Linked DNA regions of Homo sapiens: region 2 is linked to region 1. The links come from fine-mapping of genetic effects on gene expression. A gene starts in region 1. The other region holds a variant in brackets. All regions are shown on one strand. Distances are from middle to middle.

Region 1 (2,908 bases):
CACTCCAGCCTGGGTGACAGAGAAAGACTCCGTCTCAAAAAAAAAAAAAAATTTGGCATAAAGGCAGGTGAGATGTCTCCTGATGGAGGAAGGGCATGGGTGCAGACTCCTGGGTCTCTCAGGGAGGAGACCGCTGGGGCCTGGATTCCTGAGATCCCCATTGGCTGGAGGGGTGGAGAGGGCCAAAGATGGACTCTTGGGTTCCTTGAATGAGGAGGACTAGCAATGTGGCTCCTCTCTCCCCAGAACCCTGACTCTGGGTTACATACAGGCCAGATAGTGAAAATTCAAGTTGAGACCCCACCCTGCACCCCGACATCAGGATTGAGGAGCTGCCCCCAGCAACAGGCATTCTTGACTCACACCACTCCTCTCCTGGGTTGAGGGGAGGAGGGGGACCTGGTGAGTCATCTGGTGACTCATCCCCACCCCCCCCCATCTCTAAGCACCAGGGAAACCCCAGCCCCTGGCTATGTCCACGAGGTCCTCACCCCACCCTGCTGCCAGACTGGTGACTGTTGGACATCTTCTGGAGGAAATGGATAGGATTCGCGCTGGGGGGAAGAGAGGCCCAAGAAGGAGTTAGCCTCCCAGGACTCTTTGGTGCCCAGGAACAGGGGACCTAGAGGTCTCCCAGATTTGGGGTGTTCTCATGCAATGCCCTGATCTCAGGGACCCCAGAGGACAGTGGACACCGCTGAGGGAAAAACTGCAGGAAGTTTTCCAGTGGAGGGCTCTGCTGGGACCCCAAAACTTTGCCGGGCCCCACCCCTTCCCATATCCCCACCTCAAGTGCTAAGAGATCACTTATTAAATTAAAAGGATTTCCAAGAGTCAGGGACGTCTCTCCCAGCCTGGGGGTGTCCTTCCCAAACTGCTACATTCCCAAGTAAATTAAGAAGTCCCAGCCCTGAATAACGGACTGGAAACTTACCGAGAGCCGCGAAAAAAGTCAGAGCTGGAGTCGGAGTCTTGTCCCTCGCTCGGGCCTCCGTGCCCCGCCCTTCTCCTCCCTCCTTTCACCCTCCCGAGGCCCCCGCCTCTCTCACCGCCTTCCTCCCTCCCTTGCTCTCCCCTCCAATCCAGAACCCTTTCTCTCTCGCTCGCTCTCCTTCTGCGTCTCTTCTCTCCCTCCTGCCCTCACTGTCTGGGCCTCCTTCTCTCTTGCTCCCGTTTCTCTTTCTCTCCTCCTCTCAATATATACTGACCCTTTTATAAACCCACCCTCACCGCACCCAGCTGAGGTCGGCTGCCAGTGGGAGGGCCCAGGCACTCCGGTTCCTCTTTCTTTGGGCCCCCACCCAATCCCTCCAGACAGACATCATCTGGGGCTCCCTCCCAGGGTTGAGATGAGAAACTCTTGGAATGGGGTTCTTGGGGGGGGCAAGCGTCAGGGGTGGGAGGGCCCGATTCTCAGGACCCTTGAGTTTTGAGGTCTTGCCCTGGGGCCGGATGTCTGCTTTCCCTGATGGAGCTTGGAGCTGGATAGGAGTCTGGGAAAAGAGGCCAGATTTCTGTGGCATGGACTTGAGATTGGGCTGGTGAAGTTGGCCCCGTGGTGGGGGGTCAGAGGATGGGAGATGAAATTTGTGAAACTCGGCAGGGCGTTGTGGCTCACGCCTGTAATCCCAGCACTTTGGGAGGCCGAGACGGGCAGATCATCTGAGGTCAGGAGTTCGAGACCAGCCTGGCCAACATGGTGGAAACCCGTCTCTATCAAAAATACAAAAATTAGCCGGGCGTGGTGGCGGGCGACTGTAATCCCAGCTACTTGGGAGGCTGAGCCATGAGAATCGCTTGAACGCGAGAGGTGGAGGCTGCAGTGAGTTGAGTTTGCACCACTGCCTTCCAACCTGGGGGACAAAGTGAGATTCTGTCGCAAAAAAAAAACAAAACAAAACAAAAAACAAACAAACAAAAAAAAAAACCTTGTGAAACTCTGGAAGCGGGGAGGAAGCGGAAGCTAAGAATCCCAGCGCCATCATTTCCTGGTTCAGTGACCTTGAGCCAATTATTTCACCCACCTGGGCTCCAGTATCTTAGTCTATGTTGAGAGTATAATAATGCTGACAAAATACTAATACTGATAATAATAATTCTGATACTTATGCTGAATGAATAAGGTAATACTGGCACACTCACACACCTAACCTGTTCCTTCCTTCATCAAACATTTATTGAACATGTACTCTGATCTGGGAGTTAATAATGAAAACAGACATGAGCCCTGCTGGTATTATGGAGCTTGTATTCTAGTAGAGGAAGACAGACAAGAGAAAACATCAATGATGAAGATAAATCTCAGATAAGGATAAGTGACTTGAAAAATAAATACAATAGGCTGGACGTGGTGGCTCATGCCTGTAATCTCAGCACTTTGGGAGGCCAAGGCTGGAGGATCACCTGAGGTCGAGAGTTCAAGACCAGCCTGGCCAACATGGTGAAACCCTGTCTCTACTAAAAATACAAAAATTAGCCAGGCATGGTAGTGGGCGCCTGTAACCCAGCTACTCAGGAGGCTGAGACAGGAGAATTGCTTGAACCCGGGAGGCGGAGGTTGCAGTAAGCTGAAATCACGCTACTGCACTCCATCCTGGGTGACAGAGCAAGACTCCATCTTAAAGAAAAAAAAAAATAAAAGAAGAAAAGAAAAATAAATACAATAATAAATCAAACAGAGTGATGGAGATAATGACAGAGTGCAGGGAAGACTACTTGAAACAGGAAAATCAGGGAAGGCCTCTTGGAGGAGGTAACATTTGAGCTGAAGACAGGAGTCATTTGAACGCTGGGGTTGGGGAGTGGTGGGGGGGCGTCGGGGGGAGAGGAAGTGCAAAAGCTCTTAAAGCTTTTGAGAACAAGCTCAGGTTGTTTAGGGAGCAGACAGAAGGGCCAGTGTGGCTGGAGC
Region 2 (2,908 bases), 57 kb after region 1:
TTCAAGGCCAACATGGCGAAACCCTGTCTCTACTAAAAATACAAAAACGAGCTGGGCATGGTGGTGCATACCTGTAATCCCAGCTGCTCGGGAGGCTGAGGCAGGAGAATCGTTTGAACCTGGGAGGAGGAGGTTGCAGTGAGCTGAGATAGCGCCATTGCACTCCAGCCTGGGTGACAGAGCAAGACTCCGTTTCAAAACAAACAAAACAAAACAAAACCCAAAATGACTGCCTAAACCCAGACCTCTAGGACACAGACTCAGTTTCCCACCCTGACTCTGCTTAACTGGGGAGTCGCTTGATCTTCAGGTGCCCCTGATGCAAATCAGCTGAACAAAGCGTTTATCCTCTACTCGAGTTACATCGTTTCTTTTCCTTTGAGGGTCCCCAGCAAACCTTGATGTGCATCTCTTTTTCTTTTGGTTCTTTGGGAGGAAAGATTAAGCCCAGCCCAGCCAGCTCCTGGAGCTCCCCAGGAAGGAAGGGCTGGGAGTCCCTATCTGGTCAATTAAATAATTTATTTATTTATTTATTTTGAGACGGAGTTTCGCTCTTGTTGCCCAGGCTGGAGTGCGATGGCGCAATCTCAGCTCACCACAACCTCTGCCTCCCGGGTTCAAGCAATTCTCCCACCTCAGCCTCCCGAGTAGCTGGGATTACAGGCACACGTCACCATGCCTGGCTAAGTTTTGTGTCTTTAGTAGAGACGGGGTTTCTCCATGTTGGTCAGGCTGGCCTCGAACTCGCAACCTCAGGTGATCCACCTGCCTCGGCCTCCCGAAGTGCTGGGATTACAGGCATGAGCCACTGCACCCCGGCCTAAATAATTTATTTTTTATGGACTGTCTTTCTTCACTCTAGTAATGAAATTCTACCATAAAGCTTAAATTGCCAAATATTGATCATACTTACCCCAGTTACATTTTTTTACGGTGATAAAATATACATCACAAACATTTCCATGTGAACCATTTTTTTTTTTTTTTTTGTGACGGACTCTCCCTCTGTCACCCAGGCTGAGGTGCAGTGGCACGATCTTGGCTCACTGCAAGCTCTGCCTCCCGGGTTCACGCCATTCTCCTGCCTCAGCCTCCTGAGTAGCTGGGACTACAGGCATCTGCCACGCCCAGCTATTTTTTTTGTATTTTTAGTAGAGATGGGGTTTCACCATGTTAGCCAGGATGGTCTCGATCTCCTGACCTCGTGATCCACCCACCTCGGCCTCCCAAAGTGCTGGGATTACAGACATGAGCCACCGTGCCCGGCCTCCATGTGAACCATTTTAAAGTGTACACTTCAGTGGCATTAAGTACAGCCACATCGCTGTGTAACCATCATCACGATTCATCTCCAGAACTTTGTCATCTTTCCCAATTAAAACTCCGTACCCGTTAAATAATCACACCCCATTCCCTTTTTCTCTCAGTCCCTGGTAAGCTCTGTTCTACTTTCTGTGTCCAGGAATTTGACTGTTCTAGGAATCTCCTAGAAGTGGAATCACTCGGCCTTTGCCTTTTTGTGTCTGACGTATTTAATTTTGCACAATGTTTTCCAAGTTCACCTACGGTGAAGCATGTATCAGTATTTCATTCCTTTTAAAGTCTGAAAAGTATTCCACGGTATGTAGTGTTCAAAAGTAAAATGTATGGCTGGGCATGGTGGCTCACACCTGTAATCCCAGCACTTTGGGAAGCTGAGGCGGGCGGATCACCTGCGGT[C/G]AGGAGTTCAACACCAGCCTGGCCAACATGGTGAAACCCCGTCTCTACTAAAAATACAAAAATGAGCCAGGCATGGTAGTGCATGCCTGTAGTCCCAGGTACTCGGGAGGCTGAGGCGGGAGAATTGTTTGAACCTGACGGGGAGAGGTTGCAGTGAGCCGAGATCGTGCCACTGCACTCCAGCCTGGGCAACAGAGTGAGACTCTGTCTCAAAAAAAAAAAAAAAAAAAAAAAAGTACAATGTGACATAAGAAAATTTCTGACCTCGGGCTGGGGGCGTTGGCTCACACCTGTAATCTCAGCACTTTGGGAGGCTGAGGTGGGCGGATCACCTGAGGTCAGGAGTTCAAGACCAGCCTGACCAAAATGGAGATACCCCGTCTCTACTAAAAATACAAAATTAGCCGGGCGTGGTGGCGCATGCCTGTAATTCCAGCTACTCGGGAGGCTGAGGCAGGAGAATCGCTTGAACCTGGGAGGCGGAGGTTGCGGTGAGCCGAGTGTGCCATTGCACTCCAGCCTGGGCAACAAGAGCGGAACTCCATAAAAAAAAAAAAGAAAATTTCTGACCTCTTCCCCAAATAAACTACCTGCACGTAAGCCCTCATTTCAGGCTCTCCTTTTTGGAGGCTCCCAAATTATGACCGAAGGAGTCCAAGGACTTGAGAAGAACCCTGTTAAACCTTGGTTCAGGTCTGGGCTCAGGGCACTAAAGGATATTCCTCTTGCGACCTCTAGTGGTTGTAGGTGTCCAATTCCCTTCTATTTTCTCTGGGTCTTCATCTCCAGCAGTGCTTCCCTTCCCTTGTTTTCTCATCCTCTCCCTTCAAAAACCTGCTTCTTGGCCAGGGGCGGTGGCTCACGCCTGTAATCCCAGCACTTTGGGAGCCTGAGGCGGGCGGATCACGAGATCAGGAGTTCGAGACCAGCTTGGCCAACATGGTGAAACCCAGTCTCTACTAAAAATACAAAAATTAGCTGGGTGTGGTGGACGCCTGTAATCCCAGCTACTTGGGAGGCTGAGGCAGGAGAATCGCTGGAAGCCAGGAGGCGGAGGTTGCAGTGAGCCAAGATTGCGCCACTGCACTCCAGCCTGGGTGACAGAGCGAGACTCTGTCTCAAAAAAAAAAAAAAAAAAAAAACCCACAAAAAACCACAAAAAAACCTGCTTCTTTTCTGGTATCCTCAA

What was found.
Region 2: its variant is fine-mapped to the expression of EMP3 in whole blood (TOPMed, PIP above 0.99).

What each region holds. Positions count from the first base shown.
Region 1 is chr19:48,323,637-48,326,544 of GRCh38, reverse strand. It overlaps EMP3 (epithelial membrane protein 3 (MAM blood group)), which reads right to left and starts at 993. Exons shown (of 5, transcript NM_001425.3): 1 at 935-993. RefSeq lists enhancers at 110-179, 470-519, 1,120-1,169 and a silencer at 1,747-1,978.
Region 2 is chr19:48,266,745-48,269,652 of GRCh38, reverse strand. The region is part of intron 2 of ZNF114-AS1 (ZNF114 antisense RNA 1); the gene reads left to right. Among named protein-coding and RNA genes, the nearest start is that of ZNF114, 1.9 kb to the left of the region's middle. RefSeq lists an enhancer at 2,511-2,560. The variant C/G (reference allele first, on the strand shown) is at 1,720.